Linked DNA regions of Homo sapiens. The protein of the gene in region 4 purifies or fractionates together with the protein of the main gene of each other region. This does not show direct contact. Each region holds a gene or a part of one and is shown on either strand. Other genes may lie near its edges.

What was found.
Region 1: the proteins of ARPC5L (region 4) and ARPC3 purify together in Homo sapiens (affinity purification with mass spectrometry; 9 studies listed by BioGRID and IntAct, with this or other methods). This does not show direct contact.
Region 2: the proteins of ARPC5L (region 4) and HCN1 purify together in Homo sapiens (co-immunoprecipitation; one large-scale study listed by IntAct). This does not show direct contact.
Region 3: the proteins of ARPC5L (region 4) and CAPZB purify together in Homo sapiens (co-immunoprecipitation; 3 studies listed by BioGRID and IntAct, with this or other methods). This does not show direct contact.

What each region holds. Positions count from the first base shown.
Region 1 is NC_000012.12:110,437,331-110,440,379, forward strand, and holds part of ARPC3 (actin-related protein 2/3 complex subunit 3), read right to left. Parts: coding exon 2,982-3,049; intron 1-2,981. UniProt on the Homo sapiens protein: Component of the Arp2/3 complex, a multiprotein complex that mediates actin polymerization upon stimulation by nucleation-promoting factor (NPF).
Region 2 is NC_000005.10:45,259,381-45,262,922, reverse strand, and holds part of HCN1 (potassium/sodium hyperpolarization-activated cyclic nucleotide-gated channel 1), read left to right. Parts: intron 1-112; coding exon 113-1,002; 3' UTR 1,003-3,542. UniProt on the Homo sapiens protein: Hyperpolarization-activated ion channel that are permeable to sodium and potassium ions. Displays lower selectivity for K(+) over Na(+) ions.
Region 3 is NC_000001.11:19,479,040-19,482,581, forward strand, and holds part of CAPZB (F-actin-capping protein subunit beta), read right to left. Parts: intron 1-3,542. UniProt on the Homo sapiens protein: F-actin-capping proteins bind in a Ca(2+)-independent manner to the fast growing ends of actin filaments (barbed end) thereby blocking the exchange of subunits at these ends.
Region 4 is NC_000009.12:124,865,117-124,868,658, reverse strand, and holds part of ARPC5L (actin-related protein 2/3 complex subunit 5-like protein), read right to left. Parts: intron 232-3,542; 5' UTR 1-231. UniProt on the Homo sapiens protein: May function as component of the Arp2/3 complex which is involved in regulation of actin polymerization and together with an activating nucleation-promoting factor (NPF) mediates the formation of branched actin networks.

The DNA.
Region 1 (3,049 bases), on a different chromosome or scaffold from region 4:
CCCTGGGAGGAAGGCACAAGCCCCACTCTGAGATGTGCAGCTGCTTTTTTTTTTTGAGACGGAGTCTTGCTCTGTTGCCCAGGCTGGAGTGCAGTGGCACAATCTCAGCTCACTGCAACCTCCACCTCCCAGGTTCAAGCAATTCTCCTGCCTCAGCCTCCCGAGTAGCTGGGATTACAGGTGCCCGCCACCACGCCTGGCTAATTTTTCTATTTTTAGTAGAGACGGGGTTTCACCATGTTGGCCAGGTTGGTCTCGAACTCCTGACCTCAAGTGATCTGTCCACCTCAGCCTCCCAAAGTGCTGGGATTACAGGCATGAGCCACCACGCTCGGCTGAGTGGCTGCTCTCTCTTGTTTTTCTCGGCTCCCCTTGCCCCAGGGTTCCCAAGGATCTGTGTCAACAGCCCCTCACTGTATAGGAAGAAGTAACAAAGCTGCCTGGAAAGCCTGAACTGCTCCATATGGTTGGCTAATTTTTAAAAACCCTTCCCTTCAGGGTCTCTGCCGAGAACAGAAATAGTCATTACTCTAAAGGAGGAAGCAACTATTTCACATTTGACTTGCTCCCAAAGAACTCCATAATCTCAATGTCTTGACCTAACCAAAAAGAAAATGTGGAGAAGACAAATGAATGTTGATCAAATGTGGTATGGACTTTGGGTCAAATTTTACACAAATTTAGGCCAGGTGCAGTGGCTTATGCCTGTAATCCCAGCACTTTGGGAGGTTGAGGTGGGTGGATTGCTTGAGCCCAGGAGTTTGAGACCAGCCTGGGCAACATGGCGAAACACCGTCTCTACTAAAAATACAAAAATTAGCCAGTCATGGTGGCGTGCGCCTGTAATCCCAGCTGCTAGGGAGGCTAAGGCCACAGAATCGCTTGAAGCCAGGAGGCAGAGGTTGTAATGAGTCAAGACTGTACCACTGCACTGCAGCCTGGGCAACAGAGCAAGACTCTGTCTCGAATTAAAAAAAAAAAAAAAAAGGCCGGGTGCGGTGGCCCACACCTGTAATCCCAACACTTTGGAAGTCCAAGGTGGGTGTATCACGAGCTCAGGAGATCGAGACCATCCTGGCCAACGTGGTGAAACCCTGTCCCTACCAAAAAATACAAAAATTAGCTTGGCGTGGTGGCGCGTGCCTGTAATCCCAGCTACTTGGGAGGCTGAGGCAGGAGAACCACTTGAACCCGGGAGTCGAGGGTTGCACTGAGCCGAGATCACGCCATTGCACTCCAGCCTGGTGACAGAGCGGGACTCTGTCTCAAAACAAAAAAACAACAAAAAAATTACCCCCAAACCACACCATTTTCCTATATATTTTTTTTTTTTTGAGTGTTTCACTTTTGCTGCCCAGGCTGGAGTGCAATGGCGTGATATTGGCTCACCGCAACCTCTGCCTCCTGGGTTCAAGTGATTCTCCTGCCTCAGCCTCCCAAGTAGCTGGGATTACAGGCACGCACCACCACGCCCAGTTAATTTTGTATTTTTAGTAGAGACGGGGTTTCCCCATGTTGGTCAGGCTGGTCTCAAGCTCCCGACCTCAGGTGATCCGCCCGCCTTGGCCTCCCAAATTACGGGCAGAGGCACTGCGCCCAGCCACATTTCCCTATTTTTAAGACAATATAGTATCTGGGAACAAATGAAATGTGGCAGAGTTTTTTGTTTTTTTTTTGAGACAGTCTTGCTCTGTCGCCCAGGCTGGGTGCAGTGGTGTGATCTCGGCTCACTGCAACCATCACCTCCTGGGTTCAAGCAATTCTTGTGCTTCAGCCTCCCGAGTAGCTGGGATTACAGGCATGCACTACTACACCTGGCTAATTTTTGTATTTTTGGTAGAGATGGGGTTTCGCTTTGTTGGCCAGGCTGGTCTCAAACTCCTGGCATCATGTGATCCACCCGCCTCAGCCTCCCAAGTGTTGGGATTACAGGCGTGAGCCACCATGCACTAATTTTTCTATTTTTTGTAGAGACGGGGGTTCGCCATGTTGCCCAGGCTGGTCTCGAACTCCTGAACTCAAGCAATGTGCCCAGAGAATTGTAACATTTATAACTGTTACAAACTTAACCCACACATGAGATATAGAAAACATTCTATTACCATCACAGAATGTTTAGACTACAATTTGTACACCAAGAGTCTACAAATAAATAATTCACAACCTGTTTGATTCCAGAAGTTCAGAGTTTGGCAAGGAGGGGCTGAAATTCCATTTTAGGGCCGGGAGCGGTGGCTCACGCCTGTAATCCCAGCACACTGAGAGGCTGAGGTGAGCGGATCATGAGGTCAGGAGATCGAGACACCATCCTGCCTAACATTGTGAAACCCCGTCTCTACTAAAAATACAAAAAATTAGCCAGGTGTGGTGGTGCATGCCTGTAGTTCCAGCTACCTGGGAGGCTGAGGCAGGAGGACTGTCTGAGCCCAGGAGGTTGACGGTATAGTGAGCTGTGATTGTGCCACTGCACTCTAGCCTGGGCGACGGAGCAAGACCCTGTCTCAAAACAAAACAAAAGGCTGGCACATAGTAGGTGCTGCTTAACTAATGTTGAATAAATAAAGATACTTCTAGCAAGGGGTTGGCAAACTTTCTCTGTAAAAGGCAGGCAGTATTTTTAGGTTTTGTGGGCCATACAGTCTTTGTCACAACTACTCAATTCTGCTGTTTTGGTGTGAAAGTAACTATAGATAATATAGAAACAAATGGTTGTGGCTGTGTTCCAATAAAGGTTTATTCATAAAAAGGGGCAGTGGGCCAAATGTGGCCCTCAGGTTAGAGTTTGCCAACCCCTGGTATAGAATTTGGAGGAAAAAAAAAGAAACTAATATTTATACAAAAGCTAACATTAAGCACTGCTCTCGAATTTAAAAATTACATGCTGATTTCATTTTATTTTCTCCTCACAGCAATCTGGATAGCAAGGTTGGTATTATCCCTATGAGAAAACTAAGTTAAATATTAAAAGCTCCGTAATTTACCTTAATTTCATAGTTTTTGAAGAAGACATTGGCCTTGAAGTAATAGATGGCTTCATCCACAATATCTG
Region 2 (3,542 bases), on a different chromosome or scaffold from region 4:
AGCCTCTCCTGTGAAGCACAGCTATACTTCTGTTTGCAGGAGCCACTCTCACTTGGCGTTGTCATCAGTCATTGGTAGGCTTTCTAAGTGCCTATCTTTCTTTTGCTGACAGGAAAGAAAAATTCAATTCTTCTGCAAAAGTTCCAGAAGGATCTGAACACTGGTGTTTTCAACAATCAGGAGAACGAAATCCTCAAGCAGATTGTGAAACATGACAGGGAGATGGTGCAGGCAATCGCTCCCATCAATTATCCTCAAATGACAACCCTGAATTCCACATCGTCTACTACGACCCCGACCTCCCGCATGAGGACACAATCTCCACCGGTGTACACAGCGACCAGCCTGTCTCACAGCAACCTGCACTCCCCCAGTCCCAGCACACAGACCCCCCAGCCATCAGCCATCCTGTCACCCTGCTCCTACACCACCGCGGTCTGCAGCCCTCCTGTACAGAGCCCTCTGGCCGCTCGAACTTTCCACTATGCCTCCCCCACCGCCTCCCAGCTGTCACTCATGCAACAGCAGCCGCAGCAGCAGGTACAGCAGTCCCAGCCGCCGCAGACTCAGCCACAGCAGCCGTCCCCGCAGCCACAGACACCTGGCAGCTCCACGCCGAAAAATGAAGTGCACAAGAGCACGCAGGCGCTTCACAACACCAACCTGACCCGGGAAGTCAGGCCACTCTCCGCCTCGCAGCCCTCGCTGCCCCATGAGGTGTCCACTCTGATTTCCAGACCTCATCCCACTGTGGGCGAGTCCCTGGCCTCCATCCCTCAACCCGTGACGGCGGTCCCCGGAACGGGCCTTCAGGCAGGGGGCAGGAGCACTGTCCCGCAGCGCGTCACCCTCTTCCGACAGATGTCGTCGGGAGCCATCCCCCCGAACCGAGGAGTCCCTCCAGCACCCCCTCCACCAGCAGCTGCTCTTCCAAGAGAATCTTCCTCAGTCTTAAACACAGACCCAGACGCAGAAAAGCCACGATTTGCTTCAAATTTATGATCCCTGCTGATTGTCAAAGCAGAAAGAAATACTCTCATAAACTGAGACTATACTCAGATCTTATTTTATTCTATCTCCTGATAGATCCCTCTAGCCTACTATGAAGAGATATTTTAGACAGCTGTGGCCTACACGTGAAATGTAAAAATATATATACATATACTATAAAATATATATCTAAATTCCCAAGAGAGGGTCAAAAGACCTGTTTAGCATTCAGTGTTATATGTCTTCCTTTCTTTAAATCATTAAAGGATTTAAAATGTCGTTGTAAGATTATTTATTTCTAACCTACTTTTACTTAAGTCCTTTGATATGTATATTTCTCTATTTTATGAAGAGTTCTTGGATTCAATGGAAACAAAACTGATTTTAAAAAGGCAACTCAAATGAACTAGTAAATAGCACCAATCAAAACTTTCTTTCATTAGCTGTGTCTCTGCATCTAAATTGTTAATCATTAATGGTGGAGAATTAAATAACAAATCCCATTTTATAGATCTAAATTGTATTTCGGTGCTTTCAATTTCAAATTAGGTTAAAGAATGCACTACTTGCTTGGCCACCGTAGGAGACTAGCATTGCCACTGTTTGTTAAGAATATCACTAACCTCAAACATGTTCATTGATCTTTCAGAAAGCTGAGGGAAAATTAATATTTGTCTTCATGTGTTATCGGACTTTTACCAAGACTCGATCAATGTTAGTTGTAAATAACTTTTTCAACCCAAATAAAAATAGCTATTCTGTGTTGTATGAAGGTAAAAGTCATTGTTTAAGAATTTAGTTTTATTGCTTCACTTCAAAACTTAGAGTTTTAAATTTTACAAAACCTGATTGTGAGAATTATTCAATTGTAATGCAATGGCTTGAAACCTACAATATTATTTTAACCTGCAATGTTTTATGCAAAATTGTATGCTCGAATCTACAAATTGCTTGTATTACACCAAAAATCGTTACTTTTCTTTCTTCTTGCCATAATCAAGCATCTGAAAATAGTCCCTGCATGCTTCTGGGGAAAAAAAAATAGGTTCAAATCAGTCATTGTAGAGAAAGGCTTACAGTATTTCTCGTTTCTAGAAAAGCATAACAATTCATTAATTGCCTATCTTATAATTCCTATAAGGCTGACTTGGATCTCTGACTTAAGTCTAGAAGTGAGGTTTTCACTTTTATTTAATATTATTGCTATTATTATTTAAATAATTATTTGTAAACCACAGCTTGATTTGGAGTTAAGTGTTGTCTGTGTCTTCACTGTAGCTGGTAATTTACTATGGTATTAATTTAAAGAAATAAATTCAATACAGCATCACGTCTGTTTGGGAACACACATTTTGCTCTATGTATATTGTAACTAAATGGTTAGTAAACTTTAAGGCATGTGGTGACTAACGTAGCCCTTAGATAGGAGGTTTGTCATTTTTAATGTGTTGAAAATAGTACAGACATGGTGACAGAAAGCAGGGGTAAAGTTGAACGTCTATGAGCATTGTCTGTCTGTTTTCTTAACTCTTTACATGATCTGTGAGCACCTGCTTCTTCTCAAAGAACTCCCTTAGTAATCATTTGTGCCTAATGCATCCCACACATGTGGAGTATGACTGGAACACAATTGAAAGATTCCTAACAACTGGCTGCGGTAAATAACCCAAGTTAAGAGCATGACTTAAAGTGGAGGTCTTCAGTATCTCTGGCACTGGCAATACATTTAAGAACATACAGAGATCACACATTATGTGGGACAGGGCCTGCAGATAGACTTGAGGACAGAAAACAAAAACAAAAGCAGAAACTCTAAAGTGGATCCTTGCTGCCTGTTATGCCTTTTGTGGATATAATACCTATAATACCAAAATGAGTTGTTATGTTTAATTTCAAACAAATCCCAACTGGTGTGGAAGTAATTAACTGCTAGTCGATGTAATGTAATCATCAATATGCTGGTGACATATGATGGCATGTCAGGAATACTGTTGTAAGAAAGGGATTGTTCAGTCTACCTAGAACCTATGGGAAAGCTGCAAGACCATTTACATATCAGTACAAAACTCCTTTATTTTATTAAAATATGAGAATTAACTTCAATTTATTAAGATTACGTATTGGTCCTTTAAATTATTAAAGGTTTACATTTGATAGGATTAATGGATTTGGTAGTGAAATATTTTTATATATATAAATTTTTGGTTTTTTATTTTGAGCACTATTGGGAAACATAAGCAAAATTGAAATGCATGGTCTTTCAGTGCAACCATACAATTTTTATTCACTTTGTAATAGAATGGACAAAAAAACTAAGGTTTATATATTAAACTAATAAAAAGGTACAGGGTAAATTATATACATATATGTATGAATGTATATATACTTAGATTAAGAAAAAAAAATGACTCACATTCCTGTAATATAAAGGTCCATTGCTAGTTGAAAAGTGACCTCTTTTCTCTGTACATAGTGAAGCCCGTATGTATGGAGTTTTAATCTGTACAGAAAGAAATGTATTATTCATTGGTCTTTCTGCTGCTGGAAAGATA
Region 3 (3,542 bases), on a different chromosome or scaffold from region 4:
CTCTACTAAAAATACAAAAAATTAGCTAGGCATGGTGGTACGCACCTGTAGTCCCAGCTACTTGGGAGGCTGAGGCAAGAGAATTCCCTGAGTCTAGGAGACGGAGGTTGCAGGGAGTCGAGATCGTGCCACTGTACTCCAGCCTAGGTGGCAGAGCGAGACTCTGTCTCAAACAAACAAACAAAAAAAAACTAGCTTCTGTTATTCCTACAGCTGCCATGCAGAGCCCGCCACCCCACCATCTCCCTCAGCAGACTGGTGTCTTAGGCACCAGAACCTAATGCTGTGTGCATCAGGCTGAACTTGGTGCCACCTGCAGTCACAGAGTCACTGGCTGGATGGATCACTGGGCTACCCAGACTGAAATCCCCATTCAGTTGTTAACAGGCTCTCAAGGCTTTGCAGACACCACTATCTAGGATTTAGACTGACCTGAAATAGCTGTGTGTCAATGATAAACTGTCCAATCAGAACACCTACATGGGACAGCTCTGGGGCAGACCCCCTCAGCTCCAGAGGTGGTAAATCATTCCGTGTCACTCTGCCTTTATCTCCTTCCACCATCCCTTCCTTTCCACACCCACAGCTGCACAGTGGCCAGGACCCTCATAAGCTCACAAGCTGATGCTTGTGGAGGCCTCTCTCCCATCTCTTTCACCTCCCAGGCCTCCTGCATGCACAGCCAGAGGGCTCTTCCTAAAATACCACCGCTCTGCCAGCCTCCTCGAATTTCTACCTGCCCTGTCAAAAATTTCACTGGCTCCACACTGTCCCAGATCTAATGCAAACTCCTTAGCTTAGCAACTCAGGCACTCCACAACTCACTCCTGAGACTGAGGCACCCCATGGGCTCGCATCTACTGCTTGTGTGACCACACCCCCTGACCTCTGCTTTTGTGCCAGTCCCCTTGACCATACCCCACCCTGTCCTCTCTGCCTGAGCACACTCTTCCCAGGCTTCATGCCCAGCCCCCAAGCCGACTGCAGGCTGGAGTGGTCTGCAGGGCTGCGTGGAGGAGGGGGAAATGCAAGCCAGGCCTGCAGGGATGGGCAGACCACAGCACCCATGGGTCCCTGGCTAAGTCTTTTCTAGTACTACTTCATTCCTGCTGCACTTGGCTTTTTGGACGCATCTTGCCTCCCCCTCCCAGATTAGAGGACAGGGATGATGGCTTCTATTTGTGTCCCTTATTCTGTGGTATGCAGAATAAGACATGCAACAACCACAGCTACTGTGTGCCAAGCACTGGAGTAAGTACATTACAAATTTCACCCCTACTCCCCATCTCTATAAAATGTTATCCTCATGCGACGGAACAGGAAAACTGAGACCAAGGGAATTAGCCGCCTCACTGACAGTCACATGCTGAGTGGCAGACAGGACTCAAATCCAGATGTGCCCAACTGCAGAGACCATGTTCTGTGGAGCAGGCAGCCGCCTCTCAGCTCTCACTCAGTGTTTATGTAGCTGGCGCTAAGTGCCAGGCGGCCAGTGCAAGGTGTGGGGTACTCAGAGGGAACCAAACAGACAAGGTCCCTGCTCTCACAGAGCTCATATGCTCTGTCCCCAGCCCTGTCTCTCTTCTTCCAAGCCTGGAAGAGGGCAGGAACCCTCCAGTCACAGGGGGTTCCACTGGCACAAACAAGGAATTCGGGCCTGACATATAGCATGAGGCTCTGGCAACACATGGTGCCCAGCTCACAGTGAGCTTGTCTTTAATGGAGAAAAGAGCCCCAGGCTCTATTAGGTAAGTTGTGCGTTCAAGGCACAACCCAGAGCCAGACAAACTCCAAAGCAGCCATCGGCAGGCAGTACGGAGTGGAGAAAAACGGTTTGCTCTGGAGTCAGAAAACCCAATTCCTCCACTTAGTAGCTAGACAGGGACTAACCATACACCCCTTTGCACACTTTTGGAAAATGGTGATAATAACAATAGTTAATGTTTACATCACTATGTGCCAGATGCTACTGGATGCACTTGACAGATATTACTTAACCCTCATTACGACCTTATGCAGAGGTACTGTTATCCTAAAGCAGTCTGGCTCCTAACTCTATTTTCTTGTACTATGCTGCCTCCAGCCTAAAGTTGAACCTACCTTGTCAGGCTGTGGTGAGGACCGTTCTAACAGAGTGCATAGCATGTGGCTGGTGCTCCATAACCATTAAACCTCCCTTTCCTTCCACTGAAACATGAATCTGTGAAAGCCTAGGTCTGGAAATAGCATATGGCTCTAGCTGGTCCCAATATGGGTGATCTTGCAGTTGCATCCCCTGGAATTCCACACCGCACCCTCACTGGTGGATCTGCTGCAAGGGGAAATGGGACAAGATCCTGTATTTACGGGGCCCTCTGCTCACTGTGTTCTGGAAAACACAGTGAGTGGGGTCCAGCACATGACTTGGGCTGACAGGGATCCGAATCCCAGGCCTGCTGTTCACACCGGTCACTCAAGCTCTCAAGCTTCAGGTTCCTTGTGAGTAAAATGGGGGCTGGGCTATAACCTAAGTCATGTTTCTGGGTCACAGCAGATCCTCGGGTACCCGGGTTGGACAGGCTGGACAAAGCTACCCAGGCTGGACTTCCAAGGTACTGTAAGGTTTCATTTCGGGGCCCCAGAAAGCCTTGGCTGTGCAGAGGAGCGGACTGCGTGCACGTGCAATCCAATTCCACCCAATGGCAGACACAAGAGAAGACACACCCCAAAAGGCCTGGGAGTGGAGCCTGGCACAAGCCCCCAGCTTTCTCTTCAGTTTCCTGCCATAGCTCATGCAGATGTGCCTGCAGGTACACTGAACAAGGCTCTTTCCCCCTTAAGCTTTAGGTAACGATGACATCCCCACCCCTCAACAATGTGAGCCATGAGGGCAGAGATCCTTGTCTTGCATCCTCAGCACATAAGCACCACAGAGTAGGCACTTAATACACAAAAAGCTGAATTAACATTATCCTGTAGCTGCAGGTACCCCACAACATGCCTCAGTATTTGCCTAACAATAAGCATTTCCCAGCCTGGAGGGAGGGCAGGCTTCTAACGGGCGAGGCACCTGCCCTGCCACCATTTCCCTGTGGTCAGTCATGTCCTGTTCCCCACCTCATGGAATGTAAAAGTATAGGATGTCTGAGTTATAAATAGGAGCATCTGCTTTCAAAGACACGGCTTATCATTTCCTTAATCTCAAGCCACTGATCACTGCCTACTTTTTATAAGCATGCCACCAAAAAGAGGCCAGGTGGGCTTAAATGAACAGGGCTGTATAGACAGACAAGAGGGATGTGAGTTGAACAATGTGTCTTATCCACATCAAGAGACATTAATGTCAACTATGTTGTTTCACCTTGTAACAATACCAAGTTCCCATCAGCTCCTGCCAGGCAAAACCATCTGTGAGCTGGAGCAGCAATTCCTGAGGGGGCCTCCCTAGTCCCCGTTCCTGCTAAAGCCTCACCATCATCATAACTAAGAATAATTCCCAAGTCAGAAACTGAAGCTGTGTAAGGAACGGTGCTCTGAAATTGTACAGCACTCAGACAGTGGTA
Region 4 (3,542 bases):
GTGACCCTCTTAAAGGAGTAGGGGGCTTTAAATACGTTTAGTGCGATCACGGGACTGACAAGACGTTGAAGACGTTGTGACTCGAGGGATTCTGCGACCCCACGTGTGTAGCAGTCACCTTGGCCAGGCAGTTGGGGGCGCCAGGAGAGGGAGATGGCCCTGTGGCCACCGTCCTGGCAGGAGAGGCCTGGCTGGAGAGGCACATCTTGACAGAAACCAAATTCTCAGAATCTGAGATGGGGGAAAGCGGTTTAGGGAAGTCAAGGACGACTCTGAGGTGCCAGATTTGGTGCCTGGGCTGTTATCCCAGGGGTTCTGTTAATTGATCTTAGCCTTAGGGTAAGTAAAATGGGTCTTTTTATATAATAGTGTGAAAACTATTTTCATCTAATAGTACTCTTTTTAATAAAAGTCAGTAGTTGGAATGTGATTCATTTTTGCTGCTTCGAATACCTCTCATTGAACTGTGTCTAAAGATAAAAAAAATATTGCCAGACTATGATGCAACCTTATCTTCGGTGGTAAGGATACAGACTCCCATAGTGGGAAACTAGTGGTGAAGAAGTCTCTGCCTGTAATCCTCAGCACTTTGGGAGCCGAGGTGGGCGGATCACCTGAGGTCAGAAGTTTGAGACCAGCCTGACCAAAATGCTGAAACCCCGTGTCTACTAGAAATACAAAATTAGCCGGGCGTGCTGGCGCATGCCTGTAATCCCAGCTACTCGGGAGGCTGAGGCAGGAGAATCGCTTGAAACCGGTAGGTAGAGGTTGCACTGAGCTGAGATCGCGCCATTACGCTCCAGCCTGAGCGACAAGAGCAAAACTCCGTCTCAAAAAAAAAAAAAAAAAAGAAAAGAAAAGAAAAGTCTCAGGGGTCCTGGAAACATGCAAAGCCCACCTGCAATACAGTTCCATATCTGGGAAAAAATATTTGTGATTCAGGTCTGCCACGAGACAGCAGAAATTCATATCCCCAGAACATCCTGGTCAGAAGGAACTTGAACCCAGAAATGCCCATTTTACAAGTAAAGAAACAGCCCCCAAAGAAACTAGTAAATGGAATAATGTCCCAGCTCATGGTCATGGACTTTCATTCCAGCCAGGGAGACACAATTTAAAAATCCATATTATACGATGTCAGGGCTGACAGTGTTGAGAGGGAAAAAAACCATGCAGTGCCTGAGTGTGCCTTAGATAAAGTGATCAAAGGAGGTGTCCTGGCCGGGCGCAGTGGCTCACACCTGTAATCCCAGCACTTTGGGAGGCCCAGGGGGCAGATCACCTGAGGTCAGGAATTCGAGACCAGCCTGGCCAACATGGTGAAAACCCATCTCTACAAAAACACAACAATTAGCTAGGCATGATGGCGCACACCTGTAATCCCAGCTACTCGGGAAGCTGAGCGGGGAGAATCGCTTGAACCCAGGAGGCAGAGGTTGCAGTGAGCTGAGATCACACCATTGCACTCCAGCCTGGGCGATGGAGTGAGATACCATCTCAAAAAAAAAAAAAAAAAAGGTGTCCCTGAGGAGGTGACACTAGACAGAGACTGGAAGGAAATGAAGGAGGCAACTAAGCGAAGGCTCAGAGGTTGGGGTGGGCTCAGTATATTCGAGAAACAGCCAGGAACAGAAGAGAGATGAGGTGGGGGTTGGGAGGAGAGTAGGGCTCTGTAGGCCGAGGAAAGGACTCAGTCTTAATTCAAATGGGACAGCCCTGGAAATTCTGAGCAGAACAGTAATAGATCAGAAGTCTGAATTGTTTGAAAAGGGCCTTCTAAGCAGCTGTATTGAGAACACATCTGGGATCGAGAACCAAAGTAGAGAGGTGATTTAGATGGTGACAGCAACCATCCAGGGGACAGACAGTGGTAGCCCAACCAGGCAGGGGCCAATGAGGATGGTGGGAACAAGCTGGGTAAATTTTTTTTTAATTTTTTTGAGACGGAGTTTTGCTCTTATTGCCCAGGCTGGACTGCAATGGGGCTATCTCAGTTCACCGCAACCTCTGCCTCCCGGGTTCAAGCAATTCTGCCTCAGCCTCCCGAGTAGCTGGGATTACAGGCATGCGCCACCATGCCTGGCTAATTTTGTATTTTTAGTAGAAACGGGGTTTCTCCATGTTGGCTGGCCTAGTGTTGAACTCCTGACCTCAGGTGATCTGCCCACCTCGGCCTCCCAAAGTGCTGGGATTACAGGCATGAGCCACCGTGCCCCACCAATTTCTTATTTTGTTTTATTTTATTCATTTTTTTTGAGATGGAGCCTCACTCTGTTGCCCAGGCTGGAGTGCAGTGGCACAGTCTCAGCTCACTGCACCCTCCACCTCCAGGGTTCAGGTGATTCTCCTGCCTCAGCCTCTGGAGTAGCTGGGATTACCGGCACCTGCCACCACACCTGGCTAATTTTTGTATTTTTAGTAGAGACAGGGTTTCACCATGTGGGCCAGGCTGGTTTCAAACTCCTGACCTCAGGTGATCCACCTGCGTCGGCTTCCTAAAGTGCTGGGATTACAGACGTGAGCCACTGCGCCTGACCTGTTTTTTTGTTTTTTTAAGAGGGAGTCTCACTGTGTCGCCTAGGCTAGAGTGCAGTGGCCCAACCTCAGCTCACTGCAACCTCCGCCTCCAGGGTTCAAGTGATTCTCCTGCCTCAGCCTCCCAAGTAGCTGGGAGTACAGGTGCACACCACCACGCCTGGCTAATTTTTATATTTTTAGTAGAGACAGGTTTTCACCATGTTGGTCAGGCTGGTCTCGAACTCGTGACCTCATGATCTGCCCGCCTTGGCCTCCCAAAGTGCTGGGATTACAGGTGTGAGCCACCACGCCCAGTCCCAATTTTGTTTTTTTTGTTTTTTGTTTTTTTGAGATGGAGTTTTGCTCTTTCGCCCAGGCTTGAGTGAAGTGGCGCAATCTTGGCTCACTGCAACCTCTGCCCCCTGGGTTGAAGCAATTCTCCTGCCTCAGCCTCCCGAATAGCTGTGATTATAGGCACCCGCCACCATGCCCGGCTAATTTTTTTTGTATTTTTAGTAGAGACACGGTTTCACCATGTTGGCCAGGCTGGTCTCGAACTCCTGACCTCAGGTGATCCACCTGCCTTGGCCTCCCAAAGTGCTAGGATTACAGACGTGAGCCACCTCACCCGGCCTTAAGTTGGGTAAATTTTGAAGGTAGAGTACCTGGAATTTACTGGTTGACTAGATGTGGCGTGTAAGAGAGAGTCACAAATGACTTCAGGTTCGAAAAAGATGTGCAGAGTCATTAACTCTAAGCATTTAAAAATATAACAGCAAAGGCACTGTGCACCATTAGACTTTCCTTTTTTTTTTTTTTTTTTTTTAGACAGAGTTTCCCTCTTGTCACCCAGGCTGGAGTGCAATGGCCCGATCTCGGCTCACTGCAACCTCTGCCTCTGGGTTCAAGCGATTCTCTTGCTTCAGCCTCCAGAGTAGCTGGGATTACAGGCGTGCACCACGTGAGCCACCACGCCCGGCCTAGACTTTCATTTAAGACTAAGCTATGCCGGCCAGGTACAGTGG